3 linked regions of the Homo sapiens genome follow. The protein of the gene in region 1 purifies or fractionates together with the protein of each later gene. This does not show direct contact. Each region holds a gene or a part of one and is shown on either strand. Other genes may lie near its edges.

Evidence for each region. The genes of interacting proteins can lie anywhere in the genome.
Region 2: the proteins of BMERB1 (region 1) and SPAG9 purify together in Homo sapiens (affinity purification with mass spectrometry; 2 studies listed by BioGRID and IntAct, with this or other methods). This does not show direct contact.
Region 3: the proteins of BMERB1 (region 1) and POLE purify together in Homo sapiens (affinity purification with mass spectrometry; 2 studies listed by BioGRID and IntAct, with this or other methods). This does not show direct contact.

Annotation. Positions count from the first base shown.
Region 1 is NC_000016.10:15,429,705-15,437,860, reverse strand, and holds the start of BMERB1 (bMERB domain-containing protein 1), read right to left. Parts: upstream 3,274-8,156; 5' UTR 3,208-3,273; coding exon 3,102-3,207; intron 1-3,101.
Region 2 is NC_000017.11:50,991,869-50,998,868, reverse strand, and holds part of SPAG9 (C-Jun-amino-terminal kinase-interacting protein 4), read left to right. Parts: intron 1-251; coding exon 252-425; intron 426-2,174; coding exon 2,175-2,304; intron 2,305-3,335; coding exon 3,336-3,425; intron 3,426-3,644; coding exon 3,645-3,812; intron 3,813-4,933; coding exon 4,934-5,105; intron 5,106-7,000. UniProt on the Homo sapiens protein: The JNK-interacting protein (JIP) group of scaffold proteins selectively mediates JNK signaling by aggregating specific components of the MAPK cascade to form a functional JNK signaling module.
Region 3 is NC_000012.12:132,684,343-132,691,885, forward strand, and holds the start of POLE (DNA polymerase epsilon catalytic subunit A), read right to left. Parts: upstream 3,001-7,543; 5' UTR 2,974-3,000; coding exon 2,912-2,973; intron 1-2,911. Other genes in the region: PXMP2 (peroxisomal membrane protein 2), read left to right, coding at 3,329-3,450, 5,921-6,034. UniProt on the Homo sapiens protein: Catalytic component of the DNA polymerase epsilon complex. Participates in chromosomal DNA replication.

The sequences.
Region 1 (8,156 bases):
TCAGCCTCCCCGGCAGCTGGGACAATAGGCGCCCACTGCCACACCCAGCTAATTTTTTGTATTTCTAGTATAGATGGGGTTTCACCGTGTTAGCCAGGATGGTCTTGATCTCCTGACCTTGTGATCCGCCCGCCTCGGCCTCCCAAAGTGCTGGGATTGCAGGCGTGAGCCAATGCGCCTGGCCTTATACCTGACTTTTAACAGTGTGCAGCATAGGACCCAGAAGTACAAAAATTTCAGGATTGAAACTGCTGTAAATTGGGTGCTTGCTGCAATTTTCCTGCATGTTTCAAATTTTTTCTCATAAAATGTTAAGATATAAAAAGCTACAAGGGCATTATTGAAGAATTGACCAATATTTACATAATTCCTTGCAAAGAGTAAAAGCAGGTTCTGTCTATAAATGTTGTGCAGTAACCGAATGGAAGTGAACAATACGTATTGAGCACTTAACCTTGAGTACTATATGTATCATCTTATTTAGTATACACAATAAAGACATAATCTCTATTTTCAGAAAATGAAGGCAGAGTGAGGCTTAGCAATACTCCTAAAGTCACATAGCCAGCAAGGCACAGAGTGAGGATTCAAAGCAGCACTCTTGTGAACAGCTTCCATTCTGCGTGGACCCAGCATTTTTTTAAGGCCTCTGTGAGCTTCAGAGAGCAACAGGGCTGCCACATAATTATAAAATCACTGAGCATGTTCTGTGACTATCTCAATAGACTTAGGAAGTTTTCTGAAACCATGAAAGCAATAAACCTTCATGTTAAAAGCAGGCTCTGGGGTCCAACAGACCGGGGTTCAAATCCTGGTTCTGCCACTTAACTGTCAGATCACCTAACAAGTCCCAGTTTTGTTTTGTTTTTTTAAATCTATGCAAGATTTTAAATTTATATTTAAATTTTTTATTTTAAAATGTTTTGTTTTAAAATTTTTATTTTAAAATGTTTTTTTAAATCTAGGCAAGATTTAAATTTATAAATCTTAGTACTGCAGGAGGTTGTTGAGGGGACTAAATGAAATGATGCATTTAGAGTTCTCAGCACATGGTCATCTAGCAATAAAAGGCAGCCATTGTTGAGATTATTTTGAGCTTGTAAGAAACAAGAGACCCTCATGGAGATACAGAGTAGAATGATGGTTACCAGAGGCTGGGGAGGGTATTGGGATGGGGGGACACAGAGATGGTTAATGGGTACAAAAATATAGGTAGATAGAATGAATAAGATCTAGTATCTGATAGCACAACACGATGACTACAGTCAACAATTTATTGTACATTTAAAAATAACTAAAAGAGGGCAGGTGGGGTGCCTCACACCTGTAATCCCGGCACTTTGGGAGGCCAGGGCAGGCCGATCACCTGAGGTCAGGAGTTCGGGACCAGCCTGCCCAACATGGTGAAACCCCATCTCTACTAAAAATACAAAAGTTAGCCAGGCATGGTGGCGAGCACCTGTAATCTCAGCTACTCTGGAGGCTGAGGCAGGAGAATCGCTTGAACCCAGGAAGTGGAGGTCGCAGTGAGCCGAGATTGTGTCATTGCACTCCAGTCTGGGCAACAAGAGCGAAACTCCGTCTCAAAAAAAAAAAAAAAAAAGCTAAACTAAAAGAGTATAATTAGTCACACAGCTGGGCTTTTTTAAAAAAGGAGTGTAATTGGATTGTTTGTAACACAAAAAAAAGGATAAATGCTTGAGGTTTTGGATACCCCGTTTACCCTGATGTGATTATTACACATTGTATGCCTGTATCAAAATATCTCATGTATTCCATAAATATGGACACCCACTATGTGCACTTAAAAATTAAAGAAAGAAACAGAGACCCTCAGCCCTGACGCCCTGATATTATGCCAAAGCACCAAGTCATTGGGTCTTGAAAGGATGAACTAGAAAGAAAGACCAAGGTTAAAAAGGGAGAAAAAAAAAGAAAAGGAAAGAGGTTGGCAGTGCTATGACATCCATCCTAGCCCATGAACCACTAAGACATTGGATTGTGATTTCAACTTCAACCCGTCAGAATCAGAACACAGTTGAGCCCTTCTAGGAAGATTTTCTAAATCCATAATTACAGGTATAGAGAAAGAAAGCGCGCACACACAATTTTCCACCAGGTGAGGACAGAATAAGATCACATTCACAATACTTTAGCCCTACATCGCTCAGAGATCCGTGCTGGGGCAGAGCGCGGAGCAGTGACCCAGAGCCGAGGCAGGAAGCTGCCGGGTCCCTGAGAAGGACCTCTCCTTCCCAGCCTGGTGGGCAAGCCATGTGAGAGCAGCGGCTTTGGGGAGCCCCCGGGTTTGCAGGGACCTCCAGTGACCCTGGAGCCCCTGACGCTGCCTCTACACTTTGAGGGCAGGAGTTTCAACTATTGTATCCTATTAATGAAAAACAAAATCCTTCGTTTACTTAGAAATGTTGACATCCAAACACCGCAGAGAGAACCAGTAAATAAATACAGCCGGTCTATTTCGAAACTGCCTTCTAGAGTTGTGCCCAAGCAGACTTTAACTGAGTCAAGAGAGAAAAGAGAACGGTGTGTGCCTTTTGACCCTTTTGCCGCCCCAAGCCTCCCACCCCGACCCAAGGAAGGCGAGGGAGGAAAAGCTGGGAATTTCAGGTGCGCTCCGAAACCTCACGCAGGGGGTAGGAAAGCAAGCGGAAAACCAGCAGACACTCCCCCCTCTCCAGGGACGTGGGCGCTTTCCAGGACGGTCCCGCGTCTCCAGCGCCCTGGCGCATCCCAGGCGGAGAGAGGATCCTCCTCCCTGGGCTGTGGGAGAGACCCGACTTCACAGGACCAGCTGCGAGCTGACGGATCCGGGACTCCTAAGTCGAGCCCAGGCTCCTGCCTTAGCTGCCTGGCCATCTCCCAACCCTCCCAGTGAGGCTCAGCCCGGAGGGTCCCCCCCTTTTGTTCGCGGGGAGAGCGCGTCGCTGCGCAGAGCTGCGTATCCCCCTGAGCTGCCAGCCCCGCTGCGGGGGCGCTTCCCTGGGTCCACTGCTGGCGTTCCTCGCGCTCCCGCGACCACCCGCGCAGGCGCATGGATCCCCAGCTGTCCCCGGCCCCCCGCCCCCCGCCCCAGTACTCACTTCTCCCCAGTCTCTCCGTTTTCCAAGCCGTCTCCTCCACCGCCCCATAGCGCCTCAGAGGCTTCTCGGCTTCCAGATGGGTGGACAAAGATTGCTTTAATTCCATCGCTGATCCCCGTGGCCAGGTCGACGGGTCTCCCTTTACTCCATTCCCGTTGCGGGCTGCAGGGAGGGAGGTGGCTCCAGCCAGCAGCGTTTTAACGGGCCGGGCGCCCGTGACGCTGCTCCCTCTCCTCCGCCGCCGCCAGCGCCCGGGAGCGCCTACGGGTACCCAGAAGGGGCAGGGATGCACGGCACATGCGCAGTGGAGGCTTGGAGGGGAGGCTTGGGGGCTGGGTAGGGAGACAGAGGGGCAGGTGATAACTCTAAGAAAAACAACAAACAAAACAACTAAAATAAAAGCAACACAAAGGAAGTGAGAACAAGGCCCCTGCCTATTCTAGAGCCCCTAGTGATGCTTGGCATGGGGCTGGCACTGTGGGCGGCTTGCGAGCTGTAAGCCGGCAGCGGGTTTTGAGTGGGATTGGTGAGCCCGTCTCTACCTGCGGGCGATGCATCCGTCTTTCTGGGGAGCATGCAGAGGCGTGAGTGTGGACCTAGATCTATGGGTTCTGGGCTTGGCTGACTGCTTTTCTGTGAGAATATCTGTCGTGTGCGTCTGTTTAATTTGAAGTGCGACAGTGGATGCCTATGTCAGTTCCATATGTGTTTGCATGCACTTTGGGGAGAGAGAGAGAGAGATGAAAATATTTTGCACACAGGTATAGCAGAGCTGTTTGGAGCATGGGGCTTTACTTTCCAGAAACCCCAGAGGTTTATCTTTAAAAACAAACAAACAAACAAACAAAAAACACCATGGCAGTGCCTGGGCACGATGGCTCATGCCTGTAATCCCAGCACTTTGGGAGGCCGAGGTGGGTGGATCACTTGAGGCCAGGAGTTTGAGACTAGCCTGGCCAACATGGTGAAACCCCATCTTTACTGAAAATACAAAAATTAGCCAGCTGTGATGGCGCAGGCCTGTAATTCCAGCTACTCGGGAGGCTGAGGCAGGAGAATCGCTTGAACCTGGGAGGCAGAGGTTTCAGTCATCCGAGATCATGCCATTGCACTCCAGCCTGGGCAACAAGAGGAAAACTCCGTCTCAAAAAAAGAAAAGAAACGAAAAAAAGAAAATGATATCCCAGTAGGAAACAGGGAAAGAATATGAATAGTCATGTCATGTGGGCAGAGGAGGAAGGCCTAATGTGAGAAGCTGCTCAACCCCCTTAGTAATAAGGAAAATGAAAATGTAAATAAGAATATATCATCCGATAGGCAAAAACTAAAAAATCTAACAATCATGTGTTGTAAAAGATGTGGATTTTTTTTTTGAGACAGAGTCCAAAAATGCTGGGGTTACAGATGTGAGACACCATGCCTGGCATAATTTGAACTTTTATCTAATGCTAGTGGGAGTATAAATTGGTACAACTGTTTTTTTCTCTCTGTCACCCAGGCTGGAGTGCAGTGGCATAGTCTCGGCTCACTGAAACCTCCACCTCCTGGGTTCAAGCTCCTGAGTAGCTGCGACTACAGGCGTGCCACCATGCCCAGCTAATTTTTTGTATTTTTAATGGAGATGTGGTTTCACCATGTTGGCCAGGCTGGTCTCGAACTCCTGAGCTCAAGTGATCTGCCCGCCTTGGTCTCCCAAAGTGCTGAGACTACAGGAATGAGCCACTGTGCCTGGCTGCATGAATGTAATGTTTATTGTTCTCAGGTATATATGTATAACTCTACAAATTATATATAATAGCGCTATTTAACATTTTCTTATAATTTATACAAATGATATCATACTTTATAATTCTGCAAGTTGCTTTTTTCTGTTGTTGTTCCACAATATGCTTTTCTTCCTTTTAAAAAGATAGAGACAGGTTTTCACTGTGTTGCTCAGGCTGGTCTTGAATTCCTGGGCTCAAGTGATCCACCTGCCTCAGCCTGCCAAAGTGCTAGGATTACAGGCGTGAGCCACCGTGCCCGGCCCACATTATGCTTTTGAGAAATACGAATTCTGATTCATGTAACTCTGGTTCATAGTCTACTGTATAGTATTCTACATGAATGAACCATAATTGGTCTATTTTTTCATTGATGAGGTATAAAGATTATTCCCAATTGTCCACAATTACAAACATGGCAGCAGCAAATGTTTTTATACTCATTTCCCTGTACGACTGAATAGGAGTTTTTCTAGGGGGAAAAATTACAATGGCATGGGGTATGCACATCTGCCAGTTGGACTAGAGTGTCAACCTGCTTTTAAAATTAGTTGTACCAGGCCAGGCACAGTGGCTCACGCCTGTAATCCCAGCACTTTGGGAGGCTGAGGCGGGCGGTTAGTCTGAGGTCAGGAGTTCGAGACCAGCCTGGCCAACATGCTGAAACCCCGTCTCTACTAAAAATACAAAAAAAAAAAAAAAAAAAAAAATTAGCCGGGCCTGGTGGCGCACACCTGTAATTCCAGCTACTCAGGAGGTTGAGGCAGGAGAATCACTTGAACCCGTGGGACGGAGGTTGCAGTGAACTGAGATCATGACACTGCACTCCAGCCTCAGTGACAGTGAGACGCTGTCTCAAAAAAAAAAAAAAAAAACAATAAACATTACATTCAGGATAGTAATTACTTTAGGAGGCTGGGAAAGGGTAAGTAGTTAGTTTCAGCTATATCTAAAATTTATATATTTTTAAACTATTTACAGTATTTTGAAAATTTTTAAATCTACAGAAAAGTTGCAAGTTTAGTACAATAAGAAAAATACAGACCTTGGCCAGGTGCGGTGGCTCATGCCTATAATCCCAGCACTTTGGGAGGCTAAGGTGGGAGGAATCCTTGAGCTCAGGAGTTCGAGACCAGCCTGGGCAGCAAAGCAGTTTTCCATCTCTACAAAAATTAAAACATTAACCAGGTGTGGTGGCACACACCTATAATTCCAGATACTCAGGAGGCTGAGGTAGGAGGACTGCTTGGGCCTGGGAGGTCGAGGCTACAGTGAGGCAAGACCACACCACTCTACTCCAACCTAGATGACAGAGTGAGACCCTGTCTCCAAAATACACACACACACACATATATATATATAGTTTGTGTGTGTATATATACAGTATGTGTATATATACGTTATTTTATATAATATGTATGTTATTTTCTTGTATATGTGTGTGTATATATACAATATATATATATATACACACGCACACACATCCCTTACTAGATTCACTAATGAATATTTAAATTTATATTTCTTAAAAGAGATCTGAAGCATATATGTTAAAATCTGTTGGAGATGGCTGGTGGGCACTACACCCTTACCAGAATGACTAAAATTAAAAAGACTGACAATACCAAATGTTAGTCCAGATGCTAGTAAATAAATGAGTTAGCAGTTAGTAAGAATGTAACTACAATTTATTGCTGTTCGGAGTATAAAATGGTACTACCACTTTAGAAAATGAGAGATAATGGCTGGGCGTGGTGACTCACGCCTGTAATCCTAGCACTTTAGGAGGCTGAGGTGGGCGGATCACCTGAGGTCAGGGGTTCAAGACCAGCCCAACATGGCAAAACCTCGTCTGTGCTAAAAAAATTCAAAAATTAGCCAGGCGTGATGGCACATGCCCGTAATCCCAGCTACTCAGGAGACTGAGGCAGGAGAATCGCTTGAACCCGGGAGGCAGAGATTGCAGTGAACTGAGATTGCGCCACTGCATTCCAGCGTGGGCGACAGAGTGAGACTGTCTCAAAATAAAAAAGAAAGAAATAAAAAAAGACTGGCAATACCCTCTAAAGCTACAAATACATATATATTTTTCTGTCTGGCAGCAATTCTATTCCTGGATATATCCCTAAGAGAAATACATACTTGTGTCCACCAATGTTAAGAGCTTTACTCATAATGACAAGAAATGAAAACAACTCAAATGTCTATCAACAATAGAATGGACAAAAATTATGCTATATTCATACAACTGAATCTGCACAGCAACGAAAAAGACCAAACTACTGGCCAGGCACAATGGCTCACACCTGTAATCCTAGCACTTGAGGAGGCTGAGGTGGGCAAATCGCTTGAGCCCAGGAGTTCGAGACCAGCCTGGGCAACATGGCAAAATCCCTTCTCTACAAAAAATACAAAAATTAGCCAGGCATGGGTGGTGTGTGCCTGTAGTCTTAGCTACTCAGGAGGCTGAGGCAGGAGGATCACTTGAGCGTGGGAGGTTCAGGCTGCAGTGAGCCGTGATCATGCCACTGCACTCCAGCCTGGGCCACAGAGTGAAACCCTGTCTCACAAAAAAAAAAAAAAAAAAACAAACAAATTACTACCAACAAAATGGATGAATCTTACAGACATAATATATAAATAAAAGGGTGTGTATCCCTTAAAAGACGGTTGGTGCATTTAGGGATCTTTGTCATGTAATTATCTCTACATTAAAATATTTTATAATTTAAAAAAGAAAAAATACATCTATTGGATCTAAAAATTCAACTCATGGAAATCTACCCGAAGGAATATCTGAATTACTAAAAATACATTCACACAATATATTTTTTTTACAATTTATGTAAACTGTAGAAAAAATTAGAAAAGGGTCAGTATCTTACAAAAGGGAAATGGCTAAACTTATGGTATGCCTGCAATGTAACACTGTACACTTATTTAAAATGATGTTTACAAAGAAATGTAATAGGGAAATGTCATAGGGAAAACATAGCACAATTTAATCAAAATATCAGGAAAAGTAGAATACAAATTGTAATATAAAGTGTGAGCTGTCATTCTGGATCTTTTGGCTAAGATCAAGTGCACACTGTAATCTCAATCATATTTTATAGAATGATAATGGTAGAAATTTAAAAATACTGTGATTCCTTTTTTTTTTTTTTTTTGAGACAGAGTCTCGCTCTGTCACCCAGGCTAGCGTGCTGTGGTGGGATGTCGGCTCACTGCTCACCTCCCGGGCTCAAGCAGTCCTCCCGCCCAGGCCTCCTTAGTAGCTGGGACTACGGGT
Region 2 (7,000 bases), on another chromosome or scaffold:
TTATACAAATTGCTAGTTAAAGAACAGGCACCCGCCATTCTAAGCAATAGTTTCTCTTCACTGAATGTCTGAGTTTGGCTACGAGTTACTGCTAAGGCTACAGCGTATGACTACAAAAACTGTTTTTGCCAATTTCTAACTCATTGCCTTGTAAAAGTACTCTGAAATTTTCTTCAACATTAAAGTTTGTGGAAAATCAAGGATTGTTTCTCATAGTACATGTGACACACAGACATACTGTCTTCTTTTAGTTTCAGCCGACTTTTCAGCTCCTCAAGTAACACGACTAAGAAGCCTGAACCACCTGTTAATCTGAAGTACAATGCACCCACGTCTCATGTTACTCCGTCCGTCAAGAAAAGAAGCAGCACCTTATCTCAGCTCCCTGGGGATAAGTCCAAAGCCTTTGATTTCCTTAGTGAAGAGTAAGTCTTTTCCAAATTAATCATTATATTCTAAATTAAGTTAGTGGTTCAGAATATTCTTGGCCTCTTATCAGCTCTAAGGATTCAGGTAAATCTATAAAAAAATCATTTCTGGGCCAGGCACGGTGGCTCACACCTGTAATCCCAGCACTTTGGGAGACCGAGGTGGGCGGATCACAAGGTCAGGAGTTCGAGACCAGTCTGGCCAATATGGTGAAACCCCATCTCTACTAAAAATACAAAAATTAGCTGGGCGTGGTGGTGTGTGGCTGTAATCACAGCTACTTGGGAGGCTGAGGCAGAAGAATCGCTTGAACCCAGGAGGCGGGGTTGCAGTGAGCCGAGATCATGCCATTGCTCTAGCCTGGGTGACAGAGTGAGATTCCATCTTTAAAAAAAAAAAAAAAAAAAAAAAAAAAAATCATTTCTGTAACTTGGCTGTCTTTAAGTAAATTACTTGTAGTCAAAAGTTTTTATGAAAATTGCTTTTCAGTTTTTATAAAAGAGAAGGATTTTTTTTTAAATGCCTCATTTTTGCTGGTATGACAACATTGATAAATACCTATTAATAGAAATGTGAATGGCCTTTAGAGGTAAATGAGCCTTTATCCTAAATGTTTGAACATTTCTGTTGGTGTCAGAGGACTTGGTTTTCCATCCTGACTTTACTACTCATTAGGTACAAACACTTGGGCAAATTAACCTTTCAGAGCCCCCAGTTTCTCTGTCTGTAAAATTAATCTGATAACCTATCTCAAAGGTGATTGGACCCAATTATACAGTTATCTGTAAAGTATCTGACATATAGGTAGATATGTTAACTGTGGTATATATACATAGCAACTCATCTTATGAAAATTTAAATGGCCAAAATAATGGCAAATTATTTTCAAAATCATTTTAATAATATTTTACCTTATAACTCCAAAGTTTACCAAATCAGTTTGCATTTTTATTTTCTGAAACAAGTTAATGGGATCTAAAATCTAACCTATATCAATCTTCCTAAGCAGATATTGATTTACTCAAGTTTTAAATCACTTCTAGCACGTTTTCTGGCATTAGGATATTCTCAGTAAATATTTGTTGAATGAACAACAACAACAAAAAAGCCAAACATACTTAAGAATTTTCCCCTTTCATATGGCCAGCATCTGAAACCTGATATAAATTTGGTGGCTGATGATTCAATTTAATGTAACAAAGCTGCTTGGTAACCTGTTAAAGCTTAGGCACTGAATTCACTGCACAAACTTAAAAAGACCAGCTTTAGTATAACACTTTGTTTGTTTGTTTGTTTGTTTTTTGAGATGGAGTTTTGCTCTTGTCCCCCAGGCTGGAGTGCAGTGGCACCATCTTGGCTCACTGCAACCTCCACCGGGTTCAAATGATTCTCCTGCCTCAGCCTCCCAAGTAGCTGGGATTATAGGTCCGCACTACCGTGCCTGGCTAATTTTTGTATTTTTAGCAGAGACGGGGTTTTACCATGTTGGCCAGGCTGCTCTCGAACTCCTGACCTCAGGCTATCTGCCCTCCTCGGCCTCCCAAAGTGTTGGGATTACAGGCATGAGCCACCGTGCCCGGCCTATTATAACACTTTTTAAGGAGCTGTTATAGTTGAAATAAACTAATTTGAAATCATGTAAATTTTTGTTGTTTTTGCTGTTTTAGTGACAGAGGAGAGATAAAACTGGGGATAAACGTAATTAAACGTATTCATGTAATTAGGAAAATCTTTTTTCCTTTTAGAACTGAAGCTAGTTTAGCCTCACGCAGAGAACAAAAGAGAGAGCAGTATCGTCAGGTAAAAGCACATGTTCAGAAGGAAGACGGTAGAGTGCAGGCTTTTGGCTGGAGTCTGCCTCAGAAGTACAAACAGGTAATATGCACATGTGGTAAGAGCATCCAGCAGGAAAGAAGAGGGCAAGTTGAGTGTGCGTGGGCATGAAGGATTCACTGTACGCATCCCAGCCCTGCTCATCTCAGCCGCATGGACTGGGCACACATTTAAGCATGGAGGGTGGTGGTTTTCAGGCTGTTTTCTAGAGCTGTAGAACTCAAATGAAATGCTCTGAGTCTGTGAGGGGGGGAGGAGTCAATAAAGGGTGGCTAAGTGCATGGAGTTTGAGGTACCCGCTCTGCTGTAACCAGAGCAATTCTGGTTTAATATTTGAAGATTTCATTTTTTAAAAAACCAGCATCATTGTTGAAAAAATTATTGGCATGGAACTTTTCAAACTGTTCATTTAAAATTAAGTTCAGGTCTTCAGGAATTTTATCTGTCTACTCCATAATTCCTACCCCAAAAGACTCACATGTTCATGTACAAACACATATGCATGTGCACGTGTGCACATATGTGTGAATTAGAGCCTCTTTTTGAGCTCCCATTATATCCTGTTTATTGAATTGCTCAACTTGATTTTTCTGTTTTTCAAATAAGAATGGCAAAATTGGCTGATGCCTGTCATTGGCTCATGGTGCCTGTTATTGACTCATGCCTATAATCCTAACACTTTGGGAGGCCAAGGTGGAGGATGGCTTGAGCTCAGGGAGTTTGAGACCAGCCTAGGCAACATAGCATGACCTCATCTCTACAAAAAATTTAAAAAATTAGCTGGGTGTGGTGGCCTGTGCCTGTAGTCCCAGCTACCTTGGAGGCTGAGGTGGGAGGGGACCGCTTAAGCCTGACAGATTGAGGCTGCAGTGAGCCATGATCAAGCCACTGCACTCTAGCCTGGGCAGTAGAGCGACCCTGTCTCAAAAAAACAAAAAAACAAAAAACCTGAACTTGATTTCAAGGAGTAAATAACAGCAGTGCTTGCTCATGTCTCAGTGGATCTGTAATAAGTTCACTTTTGATGAGGCTTACTAATGTGCCTTTTTCACTCCTCCTTCCACCATTATTAGGTAACCAATGGTCAAGGTGAAAATAAGATGAAAAATTTACCTGTGCCTGTCTATCTCAGACCTCTGGATGAAAAAGATACATCAATGAAGGTAAGTTCATTGTGAATTAAAAGGAGATGTTTTCTAAACTCTGGGTAGTTTTTTTTCTAAAACCAAAAAAGTATAAGTATTACTTCTATGGTGAGGTTATTGTTCATTTTATAATATTAGGTTATAAGACCTGTATTTACAACCATTAGTTATTTTAAGAAAACATGAAAATGCTAAACATTTCTAGACTTAATATTGTTTTCTTTTTCACCTGAGAAGCTGTGGTGTGCTGTTGGAGTCAATTTATCTGGTGGGAAGACCAGAGATGGTGGTTCTGTTGTTGGAGCAAGTGTATTTTACAAGGATGTTGCTGGTTTGGATACAGAAGGCAGTAAACAGCGAAGTGCCTCTCAGAGTAGTTTAGATAAGTTAGATCAGGAACTTAAGGTAAGTGTGTGTACTAACATTTGACCTGGTTTATGAGACTATGAGTTTAACTCTTTCATCCAAAATTTGCCTCTGGGTCCAGCTTCTAATTGGGATTACTATGCCCTGGCTTACTGTCCCTCAGCACCCTTTTAAAATCAATTTTAAAATATTGAGGTATAATTTACATGCAATAAAGTGTGCACTCGAAATGGGTATAGGTCAGAGTTTTGACACATGTGTACACGTATGTAATCACTACAGTGATCAAGCTAATGGAACATTTTATCATTGTTCTGCTTTACCTGTTAGTTTTGTGTTGCTGTTTAGAGACAGAGTCTCACTCTATCACATAGGCTGGAGTGCAGTGGCATGATCATGGCTCACTGCAGTGTTAACCTCCTGGACTCAAGTGATCTGTCCACTTCAGCCACCCAAGTAGCTGGGACTACACACCCACACCACCACACCTGGCTAATTTTATTTTTTGTAGAGACGAGGGTTTCACTGTGTTGACCAGGCTAGTCTCACACTTCTGGCCTCAAGCAGTCCTCCCACCTCAGCCTCCCAAAGTGCTGGGATTACAGACGTGAGCCACTGTGCCAGCCTAACTGCTAGTTTTTCATCTACTAATTAATATTGATAGGTGGTTGTATTAGTCTATATTCACACTGCTGATAAACACATACCCGAGACTGGGAAGGAAAAAAGAGGTTTAATTGGGCTTACATAGGTAACCTCTGGGGAGGCCTCAGAATCATGACAGGAGATGAAAGGCACTTCTTACATGGTGGCAGCAAGAGAAAATGAGGAAGAAGCAAAAGTGTAAACCCCTAATAAACCCATCAGATCTCGTGAGACTTATTCACTATCACGAGAATAGCATGGGAAAGACTGGCCCCCATGATTAAATTACCTCCCCCTGGGTCCCTCTCACAACATGTGGGAATTCGGGGAGATACAATTCAAGTTGAGTTTTGGGTAGGGACGCAGCCAAACCACATCAGTGGTTGTATTTTTACCCTTCCAAATAATCTGGAAATAAATTTGAAATAGTATTGCCTTTTACTGTAACAGCACCACCTTATGAATATTTGTACATACATATTGTTTTAAACATTTTTCCTCCTTTGCCTATACAGGAACAGCAGAAGGAGTTAAAAAATCAAGAAGAATTATCCAGTCTAGTTTGGATCTGTACCAGCACTCATTCGGCTACAAAAGTTCTTATTATTGATGCTGTTCAACCTGGCAACATCCTAGACAGTTTCACTGTTTGCAACTCTCATGTTCTGTGCATTGCAAGTGTGCCAGGTAAGAGTGAGTCATGCGTTTCTCTGCCCTCCCCTCCATCCACCTACCTGCTGGGCACTGATGTAGCAGCTGAAGATGCAGTTCTGCACCTTGCTGTCATGAAGCTTATGTTCTAGTTAGGGAAGATTAAAAAACAAACTGGAAACCATTGAATAAAGAAGATATTTTCAGGTAGTGAAAAATACTGTGAAGAAAATAAAACAATGGGAATATGAGAAAATAACTGGGAGCCAGAGGACTGTTTGGATTAATTAATAAGGAAAGGTCTTCTAAAGTTTTGGATTAAACATTATGTGATGTTAAAACATTAGTTTAAAAATTAAAGAAGTGTATGTGATATATCCATATGTTGGAATATTATTCAGCCATAAAAAGGAATGAAGTTCTTTTTTATATTTTATTGTGGAATACTTAATATGAGTTCTACTTTTTTTTTTTTTTTTTTTTTGAGACAGAGTCTTACTCTGTCACCCAGGCTGGAGTGCAATGGCATGATCTCGGCTCACTGCAACCTCCACCTTCCAGGTTCAAGTGATTCTCCTGCCTCAGCCTCCCGAGTAGCTGGAATTACAGGCACCTGCCACCACGCCCGGCTAATTGTTTGCATTTTTACTAGAGACGGGGTTTTACCATGTTGGTCAGGCTAGTCTTTTTTTTTTTTTTTTTTTGAGATGGAGTCTTACTCTGTCACTCACACTGGAGTGCAGTGGCACCGTCTCGGCTTACTGCAACCTCTACCTCCTGGGTTCAAGTGATTCTTTTGCCTTAGCCTCCCAAGTAGCTGGGACTACAGGCACGAGCCACTACACCCGGCTAATTTTTGTATTTTTGGTAGAAATGGGGTGTCACCATATTGGCCAGGTTGGTCTCGAACTCCTAGACCTCGTGATCTGCCCGCCTCGGTCTCCCAAAGTGCTGAGATTACAGGTGTGACCCACCACCCCGGGCAGTCAGATTAGTCTTGAACTCCTGACCTCAGGTGATCCACCCGCTTCGTCCTCCCGAAGTACTGGGATTACAGGCATGAGCCACTGAACCCAGCCTGAGATCTACCCTCTTAACACATTTTTGTTTTTGTTTTTTTGAGACAGGGCCTCACTCTGTTGCCCAGGCTGGATTGCAGTGGTGCAGTCACAACTCATTGTACTCATTGCAGCCATGACCTTCCGGGCTCAAGTGATCCTCCCAGCTCAGCCTCCCAAGTAGCTGGGACCACAGGCGCACACTACCACACCTGGCTAAGTTGTTTGTACTTTTTGTAGGCAGGGTTTCACCATGTTGCCCAGGCTGGTCTGGAACTCCTGGGCTCAAGTGATCTGCCTGCCTTGGCCTCCCGAAGTATTGGGATGCCCAGCCCTCTTAACAAATTTTTAAGAGTACAATACATTATCCTCTAGGTAGAAGTTCTGACACATGTTATAACACAGATGAACCTTGGAAACACTATGCCAAAGGAAATAAGTCGGACACAAAAGGACAAATATTATATGATTCCGCTTATATGAGATATCTAGAATAGGCACATTCATAAAAACATAGAGTTTCTGTGTGAGGTGATGGAAAAGCTTTAGAAATAGGCCGGCCATGGAGGTTCACACTCATAATCCCAGCACTTTCAGAGGCCAAGGTGGGACGATCACTTGAGCCCAGAAGTTTGAGACCAGTCTGGGCAATATAGTGAGACCTCATTCCACAAAAAATCAAAAAATGAGGCGGGAGGATAACTTGAGTCGGGGAGGTCAAGACTGCAGTGAGCTACGATTGCACCACTACACACCCACCTGGGCAATGGGAGTAAGACCCTGTGTTTTAAAAAAAAAAAAAAAAAAAAAAAAAAAAAGACCTGGCATGGTGGCTTACACCTGTAATCCAGACACTTTGGGAGGCTGAGGTGG
Region 3 (7,543 bases), on another chromosome or scaffold:
TCTCATTCACAGAGAGCTACCATTGACTGGTTACTGTATCACACCGTCCCAGTACTCCACACAGGCTCTCATTCACAGAGCTACCATTGACTGGTTACTATATCACACCGTCCCAGTACTCCACACAGGCTCTCATTCACAGAGCTACCATTGACTGGTTACTATATCACACCGTCCCAGTACTCCACACAGGCTCTCATTCACAGAGAGCTACCATTGACTGGTTACTGTATCACACCGTCCCAGTACTCCACACAGGCTCTCATTCACAGAGAGCTACCATTGACTGGTTACTGTATCACACCGTCCCAGTACTCCACACAGGCTCTCATTCACAGAGAGCTACCATTGACTGGTTACTGTATCACACCGTCCCAGTACTCCACACAGGCTCTCATTCACAGAGAGCTACCATTGACTGGTTACTGTATCACACCGTCCCAGTACTCCACACAGGCTCTCATTCACAGAGCTACCATTGACTGGTTACTATATCACACCGTCCCAGTACTCCACACAGGCTCTCATTCACAGAGAGCTACCATTGACTGGTTACTATATCACACCGTCCCAGTACTCCACACAGGCTCTCATTCACAGAGAGCTACCATTGACTGGTTACTGTATCACACCGTCCCAGTACTCCACACAGGCTCTCATTCACAGAGAGCTACCATTGACTGGTTACTGTATCACACAATCCCAGTACTCCACAGGCTCTCATTCACAGAGCTACCATTGACTGGTTACTATATCACACCGTCCCAGTACTCCACACAGGCTCTCATTCACAGAGAGCTACCATTGACTGGTTACTATATCACACCGTCCCAGTACTCCACACAGGCTTTCATTCACAGAGCTACCATTGACTGGTTACTGTATCACACCGTCCCAGTACTACACACAGGCTCTCATTCACAGAGAGCTACCATTGACTGGTTACTGTATCACACTGTCCCAGTACTCCACACAGGCTCTCATTCACAGAGAGCTACCATTGACTGGTTACTGTATCACACCGTCCCAGTACTCCACATATGCTCTCATTCAGTTTTCATGACAACCCCTACGAGGGAGGCCACTGGTGTCCCCATTTCACACAAGAAGAAACGCAGGCAAACAGCACCCACTGCCTCCTGGGGCACACTCACCTCCCAGGACTGTTTTAAGGATGAGATGAGGTAACCCACATAAAGCATGTAAGGTAAAAGCCATCACTTGTACTTATCCCAGCAGCAGCCTTCCCCCTGCCTGGAGGCCATCACTGAGCTTGGGGCAGGGCAGTGGAGTGGAGCACGTGAGTGCAGTCCTGTGTCCTGAAGCAGGGCAGTCAGTAACCGTCTCTAAGCTCCAAGTTCCAACACACCATGTAGACCCTAAGGGTACCTGCCTCTCTAGGGCTTGCCTGATATGGACAGACAGCGATGAGCACAACAGCAGTTAGGGATCCTTACCACTTGGTTTCTCCTCTGGGAAGAATTTTGTTCAGCTAAGTGTCTGTAAAAAGCTTCACGTTCTCACACGTTTTTTCTATTTTTTTTTTTTTGAGACAGAGTTTCATTCTTTGTTGCCCAGCCTGGAGTGCAATGGCGCGATCTCGGTTCACCGCAACCTCCGCCTGCCGCGTTCAAGTGATTCTCCTGCCTCAGCCTCCTGCGTAGCTGGGATTACAGGCATGCGCCACCACGCCCCGCTAATTTTGTATTTTTTTAGTGGAGACGGGATTTCTCCATGTTGGTCAGGCTGGTCTCGAACTCCTGACCTCAGGTGATCCTCCTGCCTCGGCCTCCCAAAGTGCTGGGATTACAGGTGTGAGCCACCGCGCCGGGCCTCATCCGTTTTCTGCTTATGGCAGGCCAGTCCTCCGGTCATGTTTACCGTTTGCTCTGGCCACCAAGCAGCCGCGTCTTATCCTTGCTCTATTTTTTTTGAGACTGGGTCTGGCTCCGTCGCCCAGGCTGGAGTGCGGTGGCGCGATCCCGGCTCACAGCAGCCTTGACCTGCCGGGCTCAGGTGAACCTCCGGCTCGGATTCGGGAGTATTAATAGCTGGGACCTCGGGCGCGCACCACCAGCCTGTCTAATTTTTCTTGTTTTTACAAGAGAAGGGCCGGGCGCGGAGTCTCACGTCTGTAATCCCAGCACTTTGGAAGGCCGAGGCGGGCGGATCACCTGAGGTCAGGAGTTCGAGACCAGCCTGGCCAACATGGTGAAACCCGGTCTCTACTAAAAATACAAAAACTAGCCGGGCCTGGTGGCGGGCGCCTGTAATTCCAGCTACTCGGGAGGCTGAGGCAGCGGGATCGCTTGAACCCGGGAAGCAGAGGTTGCAGTGAGCCGAGATCGCGCCACTGCACTCCAGCCTGGGCGACAGAGCGGGACTCCCTGCCCAAAAAAATAAAACAGAGGAGACGAGGTCTCTCTCTGTAGCCCAGGCTGATCTAGAACAGGATCCTGGGCTCCAGCGATCCGCCCGCCTCGGCCTCCCCCAGCGCTAGGCCCCCAGGCAGGGTCCCCGGCCCCGCCCCTCCCCGCACCCTCCCCAGCCGCGCGTCCACCCCGCAGGGCCTGGCCCGGGTCCCGCCGCTCTCATCGCCCCCGCCGCGCGGCAGGTCCCAAACGCAGCTGCGCGGAAGGCGAGGCCCGAAAAACCTCAGAAAGAGCCGAGCAGGGAAAGGCCGCGCGGCCCGCCTCGTTTCCCCGCAAAGAAGCCGCGCCCGTAGCGCCTCCGCCCGCCCCGAGCCCCTCCGTCGGCGGTCGGGGCGCGCCGCCCTACCCCAGTCAGGCGCGGCGAGTGCGGGCGGCTGCGGGAACCGGGCCTCCCTCCCGCCTCGGCGGCGCCAGCCGAGGACGGCCCCATGGCACCCTCCGGAGGGCCGGCCCGAGAGCCTCAGGAGGGCGCCCCTCACCTGCTGGCCTCGCCATCCGCGCCTGGGTCCGCGCGCCGCCGCCCGCCGCTCCTCAGAGACATGGAGCCGTTGGCTACCACCTCTGCTTCAGGGGAGAAATTTGGCGCGCTCCCACCCAGACTCGCGAGAGCCGGAAATGCCGCCGTCCATCAAGAGGCGCGCTCCGCCCCTCCCCCGCCCCCCGAGGCGCTCCAATTGGCGCCGGCGCCCGGCGGGGGAGGTGGCCGGCAGGGACCGGGGAAAAGTGTGTGGTAGGCGCGCGCGGCGCACCGTGGGGTTGGGACCGGGCGGCGCTGCGGGCCGCGGTGGGGCCGGAAATGTCAGGCGGTCCCCACTCCGCTCTCGGCGCCTCGGGCTCCGCGCCCGGCCAGCCTGAGGTGGGGTCGGTGCCCCCGGCGGCACGGCGCTGGGGAGGCGATGGCGCCGGCCGCGTCCAGGCTGCGGGCCGAAGCCGGGCTCGGGGCGCTGCCGCGGCGGGCGCTCGCCCAGTACCTGCTCTTCCTGCGGCTCTACCCGGTGCTCACCAAGGCGGCCACCAGGTGAGCGGGGGCGCGGGAATCGGACGCCGCCCCGGCCCCAGGTCGGCCGCAGCGGCGCGGGGCCTGGACGGGAGCGCCGGGCCGGGACCAGGCTGGGGGCGCGCCCGGGTCAGAACCCCCGGAGCGGGCGCCCTCCGACCCGGCGCTGAACTTCCCGCGGCGACACCCGCGTCCGCAGTCAGCGATTGTGAGGCGCCTTGCGGATCCCGCCCTCCCAGCGCGTGGAGGGCCCGCCCAGACCCGGGGGTCGGCGCTGAGGTTCCACCCAAGGACCCAACAGGGGCCCCGCGCGCCCGGGGAAGCCACGGCAAGGGGAGCGGGTCCGCAGGCGCGGGTGAAGACAGGGCGAGGGGAGCGGGTCTGCGGGGCGCGGGTGAAGACAGGGCGAGGGGAGCGGGTCTGCGGGGCGCGGGTGAAGACAGGGCGAGGGGAGCGGGTCTTGGGGGCGCGGGTGAAGACAGGGCGAGGGGAGCGGGTCTGCGGGGCGCGGGTGAAGACAGGGCCAGGGGAGCGGGTCTGCGGGGCACGGGTGAAGACAGGGCCAGGGGAGCGGGTCCTCATGGAGCGTGTGGAGACAGGGCCAAGGGAGCGAGTCTGCGGGGCGCGGGTGAAGACAGCGCCAGGGGAGCGGGTCTTGGGGGCGCGGGTAAAGACAGGGCCAGGGGAGCGGGTCCTCATGGCGCGGGTGGAGACAGGGCCAAGGGAGCGGGTCTGCGGGGCGCGGGTGAAGACAGGGCCAAGGGAGCGGGTCTGCGGGGCGCGGGTGAAGACAGGGCGAGGGGAGCGGGTCTGCGGGGCACGGGTAAAGACAGGGCCAAGGGAGCGGGTCTGCGTGGTGCGGGTGAAGACAGGGCCAGGGGAGCGGGTCTGCGGGGCACGGGTGAAGACAGGGCGAGGGGAGCGGGTCTTGGGGGCGCGGGTGAAGACAGGGCCAGGGGAGCGGGTCTGCGGGGCACGGGTGAAGACAGGGCGAGGGGAGCGGGTCTTGGGGGCGCGGGTGAAGACAGGGCCAGGGGAGCGGGTCTGCGGGGCACGGGTGAAGACAGGGCGAGGGGAGCGGGTCTTGGGGGCGCGGGTGAAGACAGGGCCAGGGGAGCGGGTCTGCGGGGCACGGGTGAAGACAGGGCCAGGGGAGCGGGTCCTCATGGAGCGTGTGGAGACAGGGCCAAGGGAGCGAGTCTGCGGGGCGCGGGTGAAGACAGCGCCAGGGGAGCGGGTCTTGGGGGCGCGGGTAAAGACAGGGCCAGGGGAGCGGGTCCTCATGGCGCGGGTGGAGACAGGGCCAAGGGAGCGGGTCTGCGGGGCGCGGGTGAAGACAGGGCCAAGGGAGCGGGTCTGCGGGGCGCGGGTGAAGACAGGGCGAGGGGAGCGGGTCTGCGGGGCACGGGTAAAGACAGGGCCAAGGGAGCGGGTCTGCGTGGTGCGGGTGAAGACAGGGCCAGGGGAGCGGGTCCACATGGAGCGTGTGGAGACAGGGCCAAGGGAGCGAGTCTGCGGGGCGCGGGTCCGCACGGCGCGGGTGGAGACACGGCCAGGGAAGGTGTTTTGAGAAGGTGACATTGAACAGGCTGTGTAAAGAAGTGGAGCAGAGGCTCTCCTGGCACAGGGAACAGCAGGGCAAAGGTCTCTGTTAGGTTTTGAAGGGAAGGCCGGCGTTAAAGAAAGGCGGAGAGAGGTGCAGCTTGGACTCAGTCCCGAGGGAGGGAAGATCTGTGTGTGGAGAAAGTGAACCCTGAGCAAGAGGCAGGAGATGTGAAGGGAATCGCCAGGGATCTGATCGAGAAGGTGTCTAGGTCCGTGCTAGGAATTTTGGATTTTATAGTCCAGAGAGCTTCTCAGAAGGCAAATACAAACCAAGGCCTGGAGGGAGCCACTGGGCCTGTTCCACCTTTTTATGGAAATTTTTATTGTGATAATTGTAGATTCACAAACAGTTACAAGACTAACATGGAGAGATTCCTTGCACACCTTCCCAGTGTCCCCCATTGGTTACATTCTGTGAAACGTAGTGCAGTATCGACCAGGGCATTGCGTGGACACAGTCCACAGATCCTATTCGGATTTCTCCATTTTTCTTGTAGCTGTATCTGTTCTGTACAGTTTTATCACATCTGTACATTCTTGTGTTCACTACCACAGTCAAAATGCAGAACAGCGTCATGATAGGGCTGTCCTGTTGCCCGTTCATAACCACACAGCTTCCCAACTCCCAAACTGCCAAATTATAGTATAACATCACAGCCAGGATGTTGACATAGATACTGGAAAGCCACTTGTCCTTACCTGTGTGTTTAAGTCCACCGTCTCCACCTTTTGATACAAGAACTATACATTGCAGCCGCTTTAACAAGAATTCCTACCCCCCGCCCATCTGCTGCATGGCCTCAGAACGGCCCTGCTAATTCACCTATGGGAAAGGGACACCCTCCTGCTGGTCACTGCTGTTTTCTGATGACCTCCCTCTCCACAGTGGCATTTTGTCAGCACTTGGGAACTTCCTGGCCCAGATGATTGAGAAGAAGCGGAAAAAAGAAAACTCTAGAAGTCTGGATGTCGGTGGGCCTCTGAGATATGCCGTTTACGGGTGAGTGCCATACAAGGGGTGGGTTTACCTTGTAGCCGCTGAGTGCAACCAAGCTGGGCACCAAAACCGAGTAGTTGGAGTACTCTTATTTGGAAATATAATTTTTTAAAAACCATTGTAGTAATCATCATGGGAAAAAACTCGAATGGTTCATATAGTTTGTATGGCATATATACGCATACGTGGTTTTTTTTGTTTTTTCTTTTTTTTTGGAGACAGAGTCTCACTCTGTCACCCAGGCTTACTGCAACCTCTGCCTCTCTGGTTCAAGTGATTCTCCTGCCTCAGCCTCTCAAATAGCTGGGATTACAGGCACACACCGCCATGCCCAGCTAATTTTTGTTATTTTTAGTAGAGATGGGGTTTCACCATGTTGGCCAGGCTGGTCTTGAACTCCTGACCTCAAGTGATCCACCTTCCTTGGCCTCCCAAAGTGCTGGGATTACAGTGCTAGGAGTACAGGCTCACATTTGTGGTTTTATCATGTTTCTTTTTAATTGGATGGGTAGGGGTGACTGTCTTAATTGGGCTGAGAGGCAAACCTGAGGACAAGTAACTCAACTTAACCTAAAGTCAGACTTCAGGATTCAAAAACCCTGAAAGCGTCCTAGACTGGGCTCATGGAAAGGGAAAACTGACTCCAATTTGACCAGTTAGTTTCTATTGTTATTTTAATTTTTTTTTTTTTTTTTTGAGACGGAATCTCACTCTGCTGCCCAGACTGGAGTGCGGTGGCGCGATCTTGGCTTACTGCAAGCTCTGCCTCCTGGGTTCACGCCATTCTCCCGACTCAGTCTCCCGAGTAGCTGGGACTACAGGCACCTGCCACCACGCCCGGCTAATTTTTTGTATTTTTAGTAGAGACGGGGTTTCACCATTCACAGGATGGTCTGGATCTCCTGACCTCGTGATCCGCCCACCTTGGCCTCCCAAAGTGCTGGGATTACAGGCGCGAGCCACAGTGCCTGGCCTCTATTGTTATTTTCATAGTGTAAACATCCAGAAAATAAATGCTTCGGTACCCTGAAAAATGTCCAGTTTCTGAACCACTTTCTGAGTTGCAAAAGCACAGTAATTCAAGAGTTTTACCAATTTAATCCACCGTGAGCTCTCGGCCAACAGTAATGTGAAGTATTTTCCAACTACAGTGATGTTTTCTTTAATTCAGAATTCCTGAAGATCATTTTTATACTTCCAAGCTTGCTAACTTGAGTCATCATGGATTTTTCCATACTGTATTTAAAGCAGTAATCCCCCCAAGAGGGGCAGGTGATGAGATCACCTAGCAGGCCTCATCCAAGTACAGTTTTCCCATCCACAGGACTTCAGTCCCCTTCCCCACTGAGAATCCCTGCATAGGCCACATAACCCCCTATGACTGGGTGGGAAAAAACACTGAGAACCACTTATCTAAAGACTGTCAACGTCACAAGTTGAAAGACCCCTCTTTTTGTTGCTGAATTTTATGGAACTGCAGGCCTCTTGTCCCAGTAGATGTGGCAGCTGGTT